3 linked regions of the Homo sapiens genome follow. The protein of the gene in region 1 purifies or fractionates together with the protein of each later gene. This does not show direct contact. Each region holds a gene or a part of one and is shown in the gene's direction. Other genes may lie near its edges.

Region 1 (8,759 bases):
AGACCCTAAGACTCTGGGTCTCCAAGATTATGAGTTCTCACAAGTGGTTCCTGCTTCTTAGCCTTCAATTTCCTTGATATCTCTCTATCATACAATGCTGAAAACTTCATTTCTTTTCAGCTTGCCTGATGTGATATTGTCCAGGTTTTCCTCTTAATTTTTCAGCTGCCTCTTCTTGGTCTCTTTTGCCATTTCTTTTCCTACCTCCTAAAAAATATGGGTACACATATCTCGGAGCCTATTCCACACCATCATATATTGCCTCTTAAGGTTGGCTGTTCTGTGCCTGTGCCACGTCTCCCTGACTTGACTGTTAGCCATGCAAGGGTGAGGAATAATGTGTTTCTTCAGCACACTCAGCAAGGCAGTTTACTCACAGCTGCTCAGGAAACTTGTAATTTGATTGACTACAAACAAGTGATAGGTTAGACCACATAAATAGATTAGAATCCATTAGTATAAAAGAAAAAAAATTGCAAAAACCAATGAGCTCATTCAAACCAGTAAATAGAGAAATAAATATAGTCAATACAAAAAAAATTAAAGAATTCTATGTTTTTACATTTATTCTTTTGTAATGATTGAAATAGAGAATAATGAAAATCACAGAAAATAACAGGGTATTAATTCATTTCTAGAAATTCCTGATATTTTAAAAAAATTATAGTACTATAGTCTAATGTAGAAATTGTGTATATAACTATATATTTATAGTTTATAAAAATATAAACTATATGTAGACATATATGTATATAAACATATATGTATAGATATATGTATAAAATATGTTTAATATACATATAAACATATATGATTTTTACAGTAAAAACCTGTATAGGGTCCCCATAATAATTCACTTTCATTCCCTGCATTTAAAAGTGTATTTATACTTATTTTTATTTTATTTTATTTCATCTGGACCAAAATAGAAACAAGTCACATGTTATAAACAAATGACCTACTATACTAGTCACAAGTTGTAAATAGATTTGGACATTTAGACCAGAACTTGTGGAAGAAGGTGATTAACTCAGTGATCCTTAATTTAACCCCTCATTTACCAAGCCAAATCTATTATTTCCAGCCTAGTTCCAGGTAAAAAGACCAAAATTACCTACTCTTAAAGTATTAGGCAAAGTATTATGTCCCATCTGTGGAACTGTTAGAGGGTTACTGGAAATGCTTTTTGTCTGGAAGTTGGGGTTGCCATAAAACAAATCTGCGGACACTACAGAAAAGACTTCAGTCCTACAATGTGTCCTGGGATGTGGCTGGATTCCTGGGGGAGGTTTCTACCCACACAGCTCCTCCTTTGTCTACCTAGAGTGTTTCTAATCTAGCCACTGTTAGGGATTGGACAATAAGGTATCTTGGAAGATAATTTGCCCCAAACGCATTGTCAGGCTACTGCCACTGCTTAGCCACAATAGAAGAAATTTAGTTTGAATATTATTAACTCATTGTGAAATATGATGAACCTGCTTTTTAAATGAAACCTCAATGTTTTGTATTTGTAACAAAATAGAAGAAGTAATCCAAGAGTCTTCAAGCTATTACAAAATTATAACTCTGGGATTTAAATTCATTATCCTTATTTATTTATTCACATATTTATTTGTGTATCATTTTTGTTACAGCAGTGGATATTTTTATTTCTTTACTGTTCCTTGTGTTATTCTCTCTCACCTGCTGTGTCCACTGTGCTGTTTAACCATGACTGCCTTACAATTTGGTGTTTCATGAGGACCTGGGCTTCAGCAAGGGCATCCTGAGCATTCTCATAATTTGACTATCTTAGTTTTTCAACCCTTTGGAAAGATGTCATTCAGGTATAGGGCACTGTAAACAGTGACTATCCAAAGCACTTTCACCAATATTTATGAGCCCAGAGTAAAATGAATAGATTGAATCTGATGGTTTGATGCTGATGACTAGGTAATGCACAGGATTACCTAGACACCAAAAAAATGCAGTGAGCTATTAATTTTCTGGCCTTTTTCACATTGGTAAATATGGTTGGCAGCTGGTGTGTCTGATCACTGTGGACATCAGGAACCAGGACACAATGTCCCAAAGTTCCTTTCTCCTCACACAAAATCCTGGTCAGCTCCCCCTAGTCTACTCCAGCATGTCTCCAACAACCTGCTATAAAGCATCCTGGCACCTCTGAAATGCTGTTCCCAAGAGGCTGTCAGTAACCATGTGATTCTCTAGAATTACAGACAGGAAAGCCTTTGCCACTTCCTGCCTTTTCTGACTGAGTCATCATTGATGGTGACAAAGAGAGGTTGATAGATCCCTTCAAAGTTCTAATCTCTGGTTTTGAAACTTGAAGAGGATATATCGCTCAGCCCAGTCAAAGAGGAGCGAAGGATTGAGCCAGCAATCCAACATTGTTTTCACCCTCTAACAATATGCCCTATGATGAATCTGTGTTGTAGAATTTGAGGAAAGATGCTTAGTGTGGTACCCACCATAATGAGTACCTGGAATGTTACAGCAGGTACTCAGAGCTGGTCCTCCTCCATCCCTTGCCCATCTCCCTCCCCTCCTGACCCAGCTTAGAATAGGAGTCGTCCTTTTGCAGAACTTCACTTTCTTCCCCTCTCTCTTCCTGTAGACACAAAGGACATGAATGAATTTGAGACGGAAGGCTTCTTTGCTTTGCATCAGCGCCGGGGTGCCATCAAGCAGGCAAAGGTCCACCACGTCAAGTGCCACGAGTTCACTGCCACCTTCTTCCCACAGCCCACATTTTGCTCTGTCTGCCACGAGTTTGTCTGGTACAGTAACTTGGCATCTCCCTCCAAGCTTCGGGTTATGCATTTTGTTGCGTCTTCTTAATCCTCTACGCTGGCATGCTCCACTGTGGGGGGTGTGCTGGAGTAAATGCTACCTCAGCGTTGTCAGGGACCTTGCCTGAACTGAGAAGGTTCAAATGGTGTGATCCAATAAAAGAGGTGCATGAGGAAGCCAGGTCTAGTCAGGAAAAATGCCCATGGGATTTTAGTTTCTGCCTCAATGGGGGGGCTATTGGGGGTAAGTGGGAAGAAACAGAAGTGAAAGGTATCTTTATTACAAACAGTTTTCCAGTTTTATAGTCAAAACTTCCCCCACCTAATGGCCCAACCCTGCTGGTGCTACTTTTTCCAGCAGGCAGCACTCTGCCATTGTAGCTAATGGTTTAAATGCTTATGAGGCTCTTGGGTATCTTAATAGCCATCAAACAGATCAGTTTAAACCTCAGTAACCACATAGCAAAGGCTATGACAGAGTGGAGACTTGAAATAACTCCTGTTTCTGGCTCTCAGCATCCTAGCCTATTAAGGGATACTCTTCCCTTTAGGCTACTGCAGAAACTGTTAAAGCACAGCTCCTGTGTAACCAGGGTATCCACATGCCAGATCGACTTGGCGGGTTTTCATCAGCCTGCTTTCGTCTAATCACTTGAACCTCCTTTCTCTCTAATCATGGATGTCACTCAGGAATCGGTCCTGCATGTGAGACTTTGTTGGTTGCAAATATTCTCAGATGCTCAGAAAGAGGAAATAAAATGTTACAGATGTCTTTGTTCGTCTGTAGTGAGCTCAGCGAGGCCATGAATTTTTAAATCTAGCACAGGGAAACGTGCTACGAAGAGTCTGTGATGCATGCATTTTCATTCATGCATTTTAATCTCTATATGTTTGGAAAATACAAGGATGATAAATCAGCCAGTTCTCATTTATTTAATTATCAAACTTTTTAAAACGCAGCTTCAAATGAAAAACACTCTGTTAATACTCTTGGCAAATGATACAACAGGGCTGCTGATCAGAAACTGCTCTGTGATCTTAGGGGGTTATGAGATCTCATCCATCTCTTAAATGCTGTTGGTGCTGATGTTGATGCCAACATTGAAATAAATCAGCGTGTGCTTTATTACAGGGGCCTGAACAAACAGGGCTACCAGTGCCGACGTAAGTAAGAGGGTTTTGGTTGCATTACCATCATTCTTTTTATTTAGTTATTCCTTAGGCTATGAAAATCTTAAGCTGTGATTTTTTTCTTCTTTTCAGAATGCAATGCAGCAATTCACAAGAAGTGTATTGATAAAGTTATAGCAAAGTGCACAGGATCAGCTATCAATAGCCGAGAAACCATGGTGAGTATTTACACTCCTCTTTGACGTGCAGTGATTTTTATCAGAACGTTAAATGTTACAGCCCACGAATTCTTCAGAATAATGCCAGAACTTGCATCCTCCCATTTATCAGTGAACATCCATCTCCCCAAAACTCTTTCCTCTTCAATAATGATTCTTACTGAATTACCCAAACCAGAGGATGAATTAGAAATTAGCCAGGCCTGGTGGCATAAGCCTGTAATCCCAGCTACTCAGGAGGTTGAGGCAGGAGAATCTCTTGAATTCGGGAGGCGGAGGTTGCAGTGAACCAGGACCATGCCACCGCACTCCAGTCTGGGCAACAGAGTGAGACTCCATCTCAAAAAGAAAAGAAAAAAAAAAAAGAAATCTGCACTTGTACCTCCTAAATATACACAAATTATATACAGGAAGAATTTTCATTGCTCTACTTTTCCAGAAAAATGGCATAGAAAGTGGCCAGAAAGCATAGTTTAGATTAATTATATGAGAATAATCCTTGTGGCACCCCCAGCTAGAAGTGACAGTAAAAGAGTAAATAAAGGCAAATGATGATAAGATACAGCAACATGGCATTTACAAGGTTAGAGATAATAACAGAGGCATAATTTTATGTTGAGAAGCAAATATTTCTTTTAGAGTAAACGTTGAGGTATAATCGGAAGACAAATTACATTTTACCTAATGGAGGGGGGAAACTGGGCTAGCACATGGGCAGTGTATCATTATGAATTTTAAATTTTTAAAAATTTATATGTATTTAGGAGGTACAAGTGCAGATTTCTTTTTTCAATTTTTTTTTTTTTTTTTTTTTTTTTGAGATGGAATCTTACTCTGTTTACCCAGGCTGGAGTGCAGTGGTGTCATCTTGGTTCACTGCAACTTCCACCTTCCAGGATCAAGAGATTCTCCTGCCTCAGCCTCCTGAGTAGCTGGGATTACGGGCATATGCCACCACGCCTGGCTAATTTTCGTATTTTTAGTAGAGATGCGGTTTCACCATGTTGGCCAGGCTGGTCTCAAACTCCTGACCTCAGGTGATTCACCTGTCTTGGCCTTCCAAAGTGCTGGGATTATAGGCATGAGCCACCACACCTGGCCTACAAGTACAGATTTCTTCTATGCCTATATTACCTGGTGGGGAAGTCTGGGCTTCTAGTGAACCCACCATCCGAAGAGTGAATATTACACCCAATAGGTAATTTTCAATCCTCCCTCCCTCCCATCCTGCCATCTGTAGTCTCCAATGTCTATTACTCCACTCTGTCACTCATTATGAAATCTTTTGACTTCCTTCTCCCACCGTTTCCTTTTTCATTCCACAAATCCTCACTGGGTATCTGATTCATGGAAGATACCGCATTCTTCCAATGACAGCATAACACAAAACAGACGTGGTCCTGCGAAGTTGGAGAAACAGATAATAAACAGCTATGTATGGCTTCGATTTATATTAAGTGCTACAAAGATAGTGAACAAGGTGCAAGGTGGAGAGTAAGCATGTGGCCTACTGAGACTCTGTGGTCCGGGAATCTCCCCAACGGAGGGAACATTGAAACTGACAGCTGAAGAGTGACAGAGCTGGTTAGGTGAAGAGCAGGAGGAAGGAAGCTCCTTACAGGCTGGAAGACCCTGCTGAGGGAGAGTCCAATGTGTTCCAGGAACTGAAATGGGACCAGTGTGGTGACAGCTGCAAGGGCTGCGCAGACTGGAAGCCCACACTGGGGAAGGCACCAAGGCCTGGGTCATGCGGGGTTTCTTTGGAGCCTGGAAAAATGATTGTATTTTGTGCAACTTGTAGTAGAAAGCCCACTTTGGGATGCTGTAGTAGAAATAGTGCGTTGAGATGTGAAAGTGAAACCAGAGGAGATGGAAGGAATCCTCCAAGCGGGGAGGTTGGTGGTTTATACCAGTGAGACGTCAGCAGAGGTGGAGCAAAGGGGCAGGTTCTCAGGTGATTTTGATGTTAGAAATGACTGGATTTGCCAAAAGATTAGATGAAAGAGGTGGATATAAGGATGATGCCGCAGGTTCTGGCTTCTGCCCGAGGCCGAGCAGTGTGGTAGATAACAGAGCCACGACGGAGTGAAGAAGACTGGAAGGAGAGATGAATTTTTCCAGTTTGGACATGTTGAGTCGGAGAGGTGGACATCCAAGTTGAAGCATCAAATAGACAATTTCACATGAGCTTGGAATTCCTCTGGGACAAGGGCCCAACCCTATAAATTTGACAGTGACCATCATATAGGTAGATTTTAAAGTTGCTGAAGAGATTGCCTAGTGAGGAAATAGAGAAAGTTCAGGACTGACTACAAAGGAATCTAAAATGAGATGTTAGGTAGAAGATAAAGGACAGAGATAGACATTGAGAAACTGGGCTCAGAGACCGCTCCTCCTACACCCAGAGTCTATGAAGTTACAGAAACCAGAAGAAGAAGAGGTGGGTTGTGTTCTGTGCAGTTGAGGTGTTGAAATTGAGGCCCACGTGCAGATCTTCACAGGCTTAAATCAGAGAAATGTCAGGGGCATCTTGGAGGCATTAGTCTGATTGACCTGCAGAAGGGTGACTGAGGTGATGACATGAAAACAACCTGTAAGTTGATATTATGAAGAAGGTGAACCATGAAGGAGATGATGGACAGAGAACAGTGGCTGGGAAATGAGACCCCAAGGATGGCAAGTGCTCCCGTGGCCAGGGAGAGATGGATAAAGCTGGAGAGACAGATAAACAAAACAGTCAAGTCTGTTGGCAGGAAGCGAAGAGGGCCTGAGCTCTGGTGGAGACTGGTCCCTGGAGCTTCCACAGTTTAACCGGAAGGGAGTAGGGCAAGACAGTTGCTGATGGGGATGGGTGTGGAGCTTTGGTGATGGGCACACAAAGGCGCTTCCCTTAGACTGCATGTGTCCCCCATGGAGTTTGATGGCTGGAGGAAGGAAAAGAGAAAGCAACAAGTGCCTTCGAGGAAAAAGGAAGATCTATGAGATAATTATCTTAGAGAAAGCAAGGTGACTCGTGAAAAGCAGTCAGACTGTGGAGCAGAGCTGAAAGTCCATTTGAATTTGACGGAGTCAGCCTGCTCAGGAGTATGATTTTCTCCAACAAAGGGGCAGGTTCAGAGAAGGCGAAGTGGCTGGGTTTTTCCAGAGTAGAATTTCTCCTAACATTTAGAAGCAGAAGGAGATAAACTTGTGCTAACCGGTGATTCTGCTAAGACTCAAAGAGGTTAAAGTAGTTTGTTCATGTTTGATCACCTGTACGTGGCAGAGCTGGTACTAAAATTAAGATCACAATCTCTCAGACCATGTTTTTGCTTGCTTAGATCAAATTTTCACCTCCCAGACTTCTTCCTTTACTTGATGCCTTCAGCTTTTCTAGAAAAAAACGCAAATCTCTGAATCACTGTTAACCTCAATGACTAACAAAGTTCCTGGTACAAAGTCTTGAGAAACTGTCAGCTACATAAATAAATGTCTGTGATATTATCTTCTCCCAGGATATTTTGATTTCTTGTTCACTCAAGGGGACATCATCTTTGGGATTCTTTTGTTCCTCTACCCCTGGAGCAGTATTGTCCGATAGAAATAAATAGAATGAGGGCTACATGTGTAATTTTACATTTCCAAGTAGCCCACATTAAATAAAGGAAAAAGCAATGGGTGAAATTAATTTTAATAATACATTTTATTTAATCCAATCTGTTCAAATATCATTTCAACAAAAAATCGACATTTGAAAAATTCAGATATCTTAAGTAATTTTATACAAAAGTCTTCAAACTCCAGGATGTATTATTTTACACGTCCAGCACATCTCAACTCTAACTCACCACCTTTCAAGTGTTCGCCAGCCCCATGTAGCTCATTGGTTTTCATACTGGAAAGCGTGTACATAGCGTCTTCATCAGCCATGGTGTCTTGAGCTGTTTGCCCCTGCATTCAAGATTCGAAGTGGTCCCCTTCCAGCCTGGACCTTGACCTATTAATTGTCCATATTTAAACTGTGGAATATAAGTGAGTCCCGAAAATTATTTTTTTCTTGGTTGAAAATGGCTGTAGTAAGTGCTGAGCAATTTTTAATCGATTCTACACAGGCTTTCTAAAGAACCAACGCTGACCAGTACCCCTGGCGGGAACGTTAGATCTATTGCTGTGCTGATGAATAAGGCATCTTTGCTATGCACCTTCCCAAAGGAACTGTTGAATTAGAAACTTCTGCAGAGATTATAAACCTTTAGAAAATAAAGCATTTTATCCTGCACAAGAATATTCACATTCTTACCAGGAATCCAACTATCCAAGTGTTTTGTTGTTCCTGCAATAAGTTTGATTTAAACTCTGGAAAACTGTTTTTTAAAAAAATTCCATGTCGATCACTAGCATCCCTCTCCCACTCCCCTCTCCCTACCCCGATAAGCCTTCACATTTATTTTGAGACAGAAAAGAGAATGGCTGGGCTCTGATTCTGACTGCCAAGCTTATAGATATCCCAGCTCTAGAGCTGCGTGTCCTGGGCAAGTTTCTTACCTTCTCTGTGCTTCATTTCCTCGTCTGTCAAAGGAGGATACTAATAGAAGCGACTTCAAAAGGGGTATTCTGAGGATTACGTGAGATATCA
Region 2 (7,063 bases), on another chromosome or scaffold:
ACACTCTAAAATAATATAGTATAAAAAGTATAGTAAATACATAAACCAGTAACATAGTCGTTTATTATTGTTATCAAGTTTTATGTACCATACATAACTGTATGTGTTAAACTGGCAACACAGCAGGTTTGTTTACACCAGCATCACCACAAACATGTGAGTAATGTATTGACCTTACAACAGCTACAGTGTCACTAGGTGAATCTTGAATTTTTCAGCTCCATTATAATCTTATGGGAGCACTGTCATCTAGGTGGTCCTTCATTGACCCAAACATCATTTTGTAGTGCATGACTGTGTTGGGTTTTTTTTAGGCCATCTAGTCTGTTGAAACTACTCAACTCTGCTATTGTAGCGTGAAGTATGAGTAAGTACAATTATTTATGGACACAGTCATGTTAATTTCATATCATTTTCACGTGTCATGAGGTATTCATTTGATTTTGGGGAGCTCCATTCCCTAAATATCATTAGGTATTCATTTGATTTTAGGGATCTCCGCTCCGTAAGGCACTGTGATGAAGACCACAGCCATTTAAAAATGTGAAAATTATTGTTGGTGCAAGTGTTGTACAGAAATGGGTGGCAGGCTAGATTTGGCCGTGAAGCTGTAGTTTGCCAATTCCTGGTGTAGGTTATTGATTGGAATTTTTAACTCAAAGAACAAGTATCTTTTACTTTTACCAGTATAAGTTCAAATTCTTAGGATATTTTTGCTTATTTATATATCTTTTATTTCTTATGCCTCAGGAGTGCCTGTGAAGAAAACGGGGTATTGCCCTGAGGCTTATATTCTGCCTCAGTTGTCTTTTCTTGAAATATTATAAATCAGAATGTCTGCACAGTCAGTGGAAGAAGATTCAATACTTATCATCCCAACTCCAGATGAAGAGGAAAAAATTCTGAGAGTGAAGTTGGAGGAGGATCCTGATGGCGAAGAGGGATCAAGTATCCCCTGGAACCATCTCCCAGACCCAGAGATTTTCCGACAGCGATTCAGGCAGTTTGGATACCAGGATTCACCTGGGCCCCGTGAGGCTGTGAGCCAGCTCCGAGAACTTTGCCGTCTGTGGCTCAGGCCAGAGACGCACACAAAAGAACAAATCTTGGAGCTGGTAGTGCTGGAGCAGTTTGTTGCCATCCTACCCAAAGAGCTACAGACTTGGGTTCGAGATCATCATCCAGAGAATGGAGAGGAGGCAGTGACAGTGCTGGAGGATTTGGAGAGTGAACTTGATGACCCTGGACAACCGGTGAGCCTGCTTGTGTCATTTCCTGTGTCAGAAGCACTGGCATAGGTAGTAGGCAAAGCTGCTGAATTAATTCCACTCAACTAAGTTAGAATTATGTTTATGCCTTTTCCCCCATTCCCCTACCACTCCTTGTTATCTGTGCCGCTTTGCCATCTAGGCTTCTGCAGTATTTGTTTCATGGGGTTTCTCTTACGTGTTTTTAGTTCTGATTCTCATTACAGTTCCTTCTCTGAATCAAATCTTTCTGTTTCCAGGTTTCTCTCCGTCGACGAAAACGGGAAGTACTAGTAGAAGACATGGTATCTCAAGAAGAAGCTCAGGGATTACCAAGTTCTGAGCTTGATGCTGTGGAGAACCAGCTCAAGTGGGCATCCTGGGAGCTCCATTCCCTAAGGCACTGTGGTGAGGACCAGAACTCTGTGTGGGCTAGAGGGTGAAAGAGAGTATAGGCCTTTTGTTCAGAACTTTGCTTGTTCTCACTGGTGGGGGGATCATATCACTCTTAATCTAATATCTCAGTTTTTTTCTGATTAAGTTGATTTTGCTGGCCTCAGACCTTTTATTCCTAGACATTAACATCTTCAGCCTTTTCTTCCCTTTCAGTCTCCTTCCTAAAAAGAGTTGCCCATGTCAGGCTAGCATTTGCCTTACTTTGAGCCAGCACCCACCCATGGACCAAGTCCCTCTATTTTGCATTCAGTATTACTTGTCATCTGTTTTACATCCTTTTACTTTCAATCTCCTGCCTAATTCCATTGGTACAGTAAGCTTACCTGAAAACCTCTTCTAATCTCTTTGTTGTATATCACTGAAATCTTTCTAAATATTTATTTCTGATTTCCTTCAACGTCTACCTAGAGTCATTTTCTTCTAAGAAGCTTCTTTTGTAGAAATATTTGGAGTAATTTTTTTCCTTTTTCTAAGTATTTATGCAAAAAAAGCCTCCTTAGCTATAACATGCTTTAAATGCAGAAAAATCTTTTTTAAAAGCTCAAAGTTGTATTAATTCACGAGACCAGTCTTTCCCAATATATTAGCCATTAACACCATATACTTATGTGTATCCTTTGATATGGCCCAGTATATTCCTAAAACTGCTAGATTGCTTTCTCATGTTTATGTGAACTAAAATGAAATTTTGTTTGACTCTGCTTTAGTAATCATTCCTTGAAGTAGTTGGAGATGGTGCTGGTATGCCACTGAATGAGGTCTGAGCAGGTTTTCTTCACATCTGAGGGGACAGTGCCAGCCAGTCAACTTTTGGGGTGGGGCTGAAGTCTGCTGAAAATCTGCAGTTTTACATGTTTCATGGGACATTCTTCTGTGCAATAAAGTTTGAGAAGTATCATTCTTGATATATGGGGCTGATATTTTCAACTTCTCATCATCTGAATTTTAGAGTGACTTTTCACCTGCGTTCCTTATTTCAGCTGTCTAGTCTCTTCCACACTTGGGAATTTCTGTTTCCTGTGTGCCGTTTGTCTCCACTTAATCTTCACGCTCCTCTGTTTTTCAAGTCTCCAAGCCTCACTATCCTCCTCTAACCTTTCAGTCTCTCTCTCTTAGCCTTATCTCCTGACTTGATCTTTTTGTTAATTATTTACTGTTTTCCTCTTCGCTGAAGGCAGTTGCTAACCCTATATGAACTGGATCTTTACTCCTTAAGGCATGAAGTTTTAGAAAAGTCTTAAATGACACTTGCTGTTATCTCTGCCTGCGTGTGAGTGATGCTAACCCATGTTGGTAATTCAGGCTTTTCTTTCATTGGACACGTTTCACTGAGGCTTAGAAATAACGATTTTTCTAAGTACCATGACAAATACCACATGGGAGAAGCTGCTTTTATTGGAAAACTTTCATTTATTAGGGGCATACTGAATTTTTATGTCATGTCTTTGGTTAACACAGGAGGCCCCCAGCTTATCTTCAGCCCCTTCTTGTCAAGACTCCTGTGTTCTGCTTTTAGGCTAACATTGGCTGTGACCTGACTTGGCTTGTTCATTTCAGAAATAGCCACTTTCTGACATGTTTTTCTAATTTACATCTTTGTATTTTGATGTAATTTCTCCCTTTCTCAAAGTAAAAGAACATTATAATGATTTCCTAGTGGCCAATTTTATTTTATTTTTATTCTTACAAAGTTTCATCCATACCTAGCCACATCATTTTGACTATCTCCCTAACCATCTTAGAATCTACCATCTTTCTGACCTTTGTTTTCTGACTACCATTTGTAAACCACTTGCCTATGTTTTATTCAGATATCCCTTATATCATGATGTTATACTGTTATTCAGAGTAATTTCATTTTTTCTTTTTTGAGAATAGGCCTTAACACCAGTGTCAGAGTGGTTTATAGATGTGTGCTAGCTATTTTAGTTCATTAAAAAAAAAATTTTTTTTAGGTTTCTTTTCCCTTAATAGATAATGAATGATATTTACATTTTCTGTTTATTTCAGATGATGATGGTAGGACTGAAAATGGAGCACTAGCTCCAAAGCAGGAGCTTCCTTCAGCATTAGAATCCCATGAAGTTCCTGGCACTCTCAATATGGGTGTTCCTCAAATTTTTAAATATGGAGAAACCTGTTTCCCCAAGGGCAGGTTTGAAAGAAAGAGAAATCCCTCTCGAAAGAAACAACATATATGTGATGAATGTGGAAAACACTTCAGTCAGGGCTCAGCCCTTATTCTTCATCAAAGAATTCACAGTGGGGAGAAACCTTATGGATGTGTTGAGTGTGGGAAAGCATTCAGCCGAAGTTCCATTCTTGTGCAACACCAGAGAGTCCACACTGGAGAAAAACCTTACAAATGTCTTGAATGTGGGAAAGCCTTTAGCCAGAATTCGGGGCTTATTAATCATCAGAGAATCCATACTGGGGAGAAACCTTATGAATGCGTTCAGTGTGGGAAATCGTATAGTCAAAGCTCAAATCTTTTTAGACATCAGAGAAGACACAATGCAGAAAAACTTCTGAATGTTGTGAAAGTTTAAGAAATTGAAAAAAAAAAAAGAATCAGCACTCAGGTCTTTTTCTTCAGAAATGAAGACAAAATTTAAAATATGAAATGATGCAGAATAGTTTTTTCCCTATTGACTGTCAGAAAATCCACTGGGAAATGTAAAAATCTTCACTCACCATTATGATATTTATCTTGAAAGAAATGGTGTCATACCTGCCTAGAAACTGAAATTTTAAACTTAATTCAGGTCTTAATGCCTAAATTTTCCATGTGATGTTTATAGTCTGTATTACTTCTCCAAATAATGAACTACCTGATTCATTGTCCCTTTCTTGAAAGTTTCTTTTTTAAGACAAATACATTATTTCTGCATTGATCATTGAAATGTTCTTTATATGGATACATTCCCTTATATATTAAAAGGCAACAGGAATTACAAAGTCTGAAAACCATTTTAAACCATCTTTTAAAAATTTACCCTTATTTCCTTTTACCTAATTTGAATATGCATTTGAGAAAATAAGAGGATAAAGGATGGCTAAGAGCCTCAAAATGAACCATAAGATCTCAGATAAGAAGTGATGGTGATAAAACATCAAAAAGTGAATGGAACACCTTGATTGGGGAAGATATGCAAATACTTTGATCTAAGAATTGAAATGTATCAAGAATTTATATTTTGCCTGCAGGAAAATTCAAAAGCTACTCATCCTCTCTATAATTTGGAGTCATCTTACTAATGAAAATAATGTTTTCCCATATATTATTAAAAAGCATACAGTCTAAATAATAAACAGTTGTAAAATAATGAAGGTAGAAATTATAACACTAGGGAAAAATTTGTAGCGGATGGCAGTGTTGAAGGCAAATGTAAACATAAGGGTAATGGTCTGTCATGGCTTTTAGAAAAAGATGATAGAGTTCATCATTATTTTGCCTTCATCTTTGTTAAGGACAGAAAATTCCCTGACAGGTGGGCAAGTATCAGGTTACCTATTTTTTATTCCTTTGGTACAAAAGGGTTGAACGTCAGGCTAAAAAAGCAGCCATGCATTTATTATTAAACATTTTCTACCGACAAGGCACTGTGCTAGGTACTGTAATCCTACCATAAGTAGGTAGGTATTTCTTCCACTGTAAATCATAGGGGTTTGCTGTTTTATGTGAGTTAGCCTCTTCCCCTTGTCTGAGCATTCCTCAGGGGAGGTCACCTGTGAGGTTCCCAGAACTGTAGTTTTTTTTACCAGGGTGTTGTATTTGGAGGGGGAGGAGGACTCGGCTCAAAAGAGCTAGCTGGCTCTCCAGTGTTCAGAGGTGAGTCCACGATACTCTTACCACAATTTGGAAGTTTGTGAATCTTTTTAAAGAACTAATCAATCTCTAATAGCATTGAGGTTGTACCTACATATTAAGTTGAATGGACTGTTCTATTTAAAAAATAAACAACTAGACAATTAACTAGTTTATTAACCTATCACAATTGAATTTTTTTTTAATTTTCAGTCTTAACACATTTTTTAAAATGTATTAAAGTAATACATTGTAGTAGTAGGATTATATACTCCTTGGCTGAGAATTCCAAGTACTGTGGTTCTACTGTTTAGTGGAAAACTCTGGAAGTTAAAATATAGAATATGAGAGGAGGCTTTTTTATAATGGGCATCATTGTGTGGAAAATGACCCATGTGAATACAAATATTTCCTAGTTCAGAGATTTTGGTTATATCTGGTGCTTGGATCAAGTTTAAAAATGGAAGGTGAGATTTTGCATGAGCCTATTAAAAAGCATAGTAATAAATGCAAGGCCAGCTGGTGGAAAAGTGAGGCAGAATGGAGCTTGTTTATAGGTTTTCTGATAACAATTATAAAAAATGTGCTTTATAGATTAAGATTTATTGAAGTATAAATATGTAGTAATGATATAATGTATTTTAAGTTATACAAGAAAATGTAGGGACTTTTGTTTGGGTCTTTTTCTCTTTGTGGCTGAGGGGAAACAAGTCAGTGTCCAATAAAGCTGTAAACTCCTCTGCTCTAAGATAAATGATGTGATTTATTTATTTATAACTGGCTTCTTTCCAAGTAGGTTTTCAGGTGGCATATTTGGAAGACGGCTGGAATGACAGAATTCTTGTATCAGAGTAGGTAAGAAGGGAGCAACCTCTCAATGGCTATTATGTCATGCTTTTTAAGATCGTATGCGGTTCCTATATACAAGGAAGCTTCCCTGTGGTAGATTTGTCATAAATGCCAAAGATATTTGGTAATGTGAGTGTAGAAAAAGTAGTATGAGGGTTGGCAAATACTGTTTTTGTCTTGGCAGCTCTAATATCTGCATTGTTCAGAAAGGATTCTGAGGCTAAGGCAAAGCTCTGTGGGAAAAAGGGACTGGACCAAAAAAAACTGGATGGTGGCACACAAGAAGAGGAAATGATGAGATGTGTACTTTCTATCTCTGGTTAGGCTTAGTCCCCACTAGACAAATTGATTTTAAATACTATGTAGTGATTTTTAAATTCCATCCACACATTCATTACCCACACAGATAATCATAGAAATTTGGGGGAGTGCCTAGCTTCTGATGAAGTGGTGATATGGCAGTGCCAAGCAGTGGCATCGCCAGAGTATCTGTTTGGTTAGCAAATGAGCAGTCATTTTAGGTCATGCAGATTGCTGATATCTGCCCAGTAGCCACTGAGCATTTGCTGGTTTTTTCTTCTGGCTTTCTTGGAGGTTAAGCTCTCTGTAGTCATACCCAGTTGGTACTTGATCTTTAGCAATATGTCTCATATTCATGTAAATTGAAGGGAGGGTTACATGTACTGAAATAATCTGCATGCTA
Region 3 (2,722 bases), on another chromosome or scaffold:
GCCAATTCAAAGAAAAGATCCTGTACAGTTTGAATATGTAACTTAGCTTAAGAGTACCCTGCAGTCACAAGATTTATTAATAAAAGGGTTTGGCTTTTTAATTTGTATTTGTTTAATTTATTTGTTTTATGCAGCCTGGGTCTTGCTATGTTGCCCAGGCTGGTCTTGAACTCCTGGCCTCAAGCGATCCGCTCGCCTCTGCCTCCCAAAGTGCTGGAACTATAGGCATGAGCCACCATACCCAGCCAATAAAGGGGTTTCAATATATTTCTTTTTATTTTTTATTTTTTGAGATGGAGTCTTGCTCTTTTGCCCAGGGTGGAGTGCAATGGCACGATCTCAGCTCACTGCAACCCCTACCTCCCAGGTTCAAGTGATTCTCCTGCCTCAGCCTCCTGAGTAGCTGGGACTATAGGAGCTTGCCACCACGCCTGGCTAATTTTGTATTTTTAGTAGAAATGGGGTTTCACCATTTTGGCCAGGCTGGTCTCGAACTCCTGACCTCATGATCTGCCCACCTTGGCCTCCCAAAGTGTTGGGATTATAGGCATGAGCCACTGTGCCTGGCTGGGTTTTAGTATATTTCTCAATTGTCCTGATTTCCTCCTGAAGAGGAAAAATAACCTGAAATGTGTTGGTGGCTGTTGTTTTTTTAACATGTCTGTTGACTTTCAGGCCCTAGACTGGAGCTGGTTACAGACGGAAGAAGAAGAGCACAGCTGCCTGGAGCAGGCCTCATGATGTGGGGGGACTCGACCCCCTGACATGGGGCAGCCCATAGCAGGCCTTGTGCAGTGGGGGGACTCGACCCCCTGACATGGGGCTGCCTGGAGCAGGCCGCGTGACGTGGGGCTGCCTGGCCGCGGCTCTCACATGGTGGTTCCTGCTGCACTGATGGCCCAGGGGTCTCTGGTATCCAGATGGAGCTCTCGCTTCCTCAGCAGCTGTGACTTTCACCCAGGACCCAGGACGCAGCCCTCCGTGGGCACTGCCGGCGCCTTGTCTGCACACTGGAGGTCCTCCATTACAGAGGCCCAGCGCACATCGCTGGCCCCACAAACGTTCAGGGGTACAGCCATGGCAGCTCCTTCCTCTGCCGTGAGAAAAGTGCTTGGAGTACGGTTTGCCACACACGTGACTGGACAGTGTCCAATTCAAATCTTTCAGGGCAGAGTCCGAGCAGCGCTTGGTGACAGCCTGTCCTCTCCTGCTCTCCAAAGGCCCTGCTCCCTGTCCTCTCTCACTTTACAGCTTGTGTTTCTTCTGGATTCAGCTTCTCCTAAACAGACAGTTTAATTATAGTTGCGGCCTGGCCCCATCCTCACTTCCTCTTTTTATTTCACTGCTGCTAAAATTGTGTTTTTACCTACTACTTTGGTGGTTGTCCTCTTTTCGGCAAAGTTGGAGCGAGTGCCAAGCTCTCCATCTGTGGTCCTTTCTGCCAAGAGCGACTCATAGTAACCAGGATGGGAGAGCAGCTGCCTTATTCTGAATCCCAAAAATTACTTGGGGGTGATTGTCACAGAGGAGGGACAGAAAGGGTATCTGCTGACCACCAGCCTGCCTACCCATGCCCATGTCTCCATTCCTGCTCAAGCGTGTGTGCTGGGCCGGGGAGTCCCTGTCTCTCACAGCATCTAGCAGTATTATTAAATGGATTCATTTTAAAAATAGCTCCTATATTTTGTAACATGTCTCAAACACTCATACTGGGTTCCACAATCCACTGTTAGAATACCTATGGTTAGGGCTTCTGAACTAAAATAATGGAAAATTTTAACAATTTGTATAGTGCCTGGATCATTACTAGTGCCATAACCCTGCTTCTTCAACATTTCACAGAACTTCTCTTTTATATAAAGGCAAGAGCACAAAATGAGTTCAGATGATCACAAACAGGTGAGTTTTGTTGGAGAAGAAAGTTGGAGTAGGAGACTTTCACAAGTGGTTTCCATGGAGATAGAATGAAGCATTCTGTGGTCAAGTAAGTTTAGGGAGCTATTCATGTTTCACTTGCTTTGTGGAGATTCACACTATGCACTGGGAAAGTATCTGAAAAGTCTTATAATAAAGAAACAGGCTTAACTTTGTGTAAGAACACTGTTTATCAATGTCATTTGGCTATAGAAACATTTTCTCCTGCTGATTGTGTGTGTGAAACATGTATTAACATTCCAATGAACTAGCATTTAATAAAGCACAATTTTGGAAACCCTGGTAAATGACAGTGGGAAATAACACCCGAAAGGCAAGGACGGGCAGATTGGGGAGGGAAAGGATGTTGGGCTAAGGGCTGTGAGCTTATGTTACAGGCAACTGAGCCACTGAAGAATTTTGACGAAGAAAATGCCAACCAAAGCAGTCATTTTAAAAGTTTATGGCTGTTCAGTTACAGGACAAGTTGTGAAAAGAAAGAAAAAAAATGGAAAAAAAAAAAGTTTATGGCTGAAACAGTGTAATTGATTAAAAAGTGAAAATCCAGGCCGGGCGCGGTGGCTCACGCCTGTAATTCCAACACTTTGGGAGGCTGAGGCAGGCAGATCACCTGAGGTCGGGAGTTCGAGACCAGCCTGACCAATATGGAGAAACCCCGTCTCTACTAAAAATACAAAAGCCAGGCGTGGTGGGACATGCCTGTAATCCCAGCTACTCGGGAGGCTGAGGCAGGAGAATCGCTTGAACCTAGGAGGCAGAGGTTGCAGTGAGCAGAGATTGTGCCATT

Evidence for each region. The genes of interacting proteins can lie anywhere in the genome.
Region 2: the proteins of PRKCQ (region 1) and ZNF24 purify together in Homo sapiens (affinity purification with mass spectrometry; 2 studies listed by BioGRID and IntAct, with this or other methods). This does not show direct contact.
Region 3: the proteins of PRKCQ (region 1) and IKBKB purify together in Homo sapiens (affinity purification with western blotting; 4 studies listed by BioGRID). This does not show direct contact.

Annotation. Positions count from the first base shown.
Region 1 is NC_000010.11:6,492,420-6,501,178, reverse strand, and holds part of PRKCQ (protein kinase C theta type), read left to right. Parts: intron 1-2,620; coding exon 2,621-2,783; intron 2,784-3,927; coding exon 3,928-3,959; intron 3,960-4,058; coding exon 4,059-4,144; intron 4,145-7,802; exon of another isoform or gene 7,803-8,120; intron 8,121-8,668; exon of another isoform or gene 8,669-8,710; intron 8,711-8,759. UniProt on the Homo sapiens protein: Calcium-independent, phospholipid- and diacylglycerol (DAG)-dependent serine/threonine-protein kinase that mediates non-redundant functions in T-cell receptor (TCR) signaling, including T-cells activation, proliferation, differentiation and survival, by mediating activation of multiple transcription factors such as NF-kappa-B, JUN, NFATC1 and NFATC2.
Region 2 is NC_000018.10:35,334,421-35,341,483, reverse strand, and holds part of ZNF24 (zinc finger protein 24), read left to right. Parts: intron 1-750; 5' UTR 751-833; coding exon 834-1,253; intron 1,254-1,507; coding exon 1,508-1,655; intron 1,656-2,410; coding exon of another isoform or gene 2,411-2,424; exon of another isoform or gene 2,425-3,713; coding exon 3,714-4,252; 3' UTR 4,253-7,063. UniProt on the Homo sapiens protein: Transcription factor required for myelination of differentiated oligodendrocytes. Required for the conversion of oligodendrocytes from the premyelinating to the myelinating state.
Region 3 is NC_000008.11:42,330,239-42,332,960, forward strand, and holds the end of IKBKB (inhibitor of nuclear factor kappa-B kinase subunit beta), read left to right. Parts: exon of another isoform or gene 1-101; intron 102-675; coding exon 676-741; 3' UTR 742-2,222; downstream 2,223-2,722.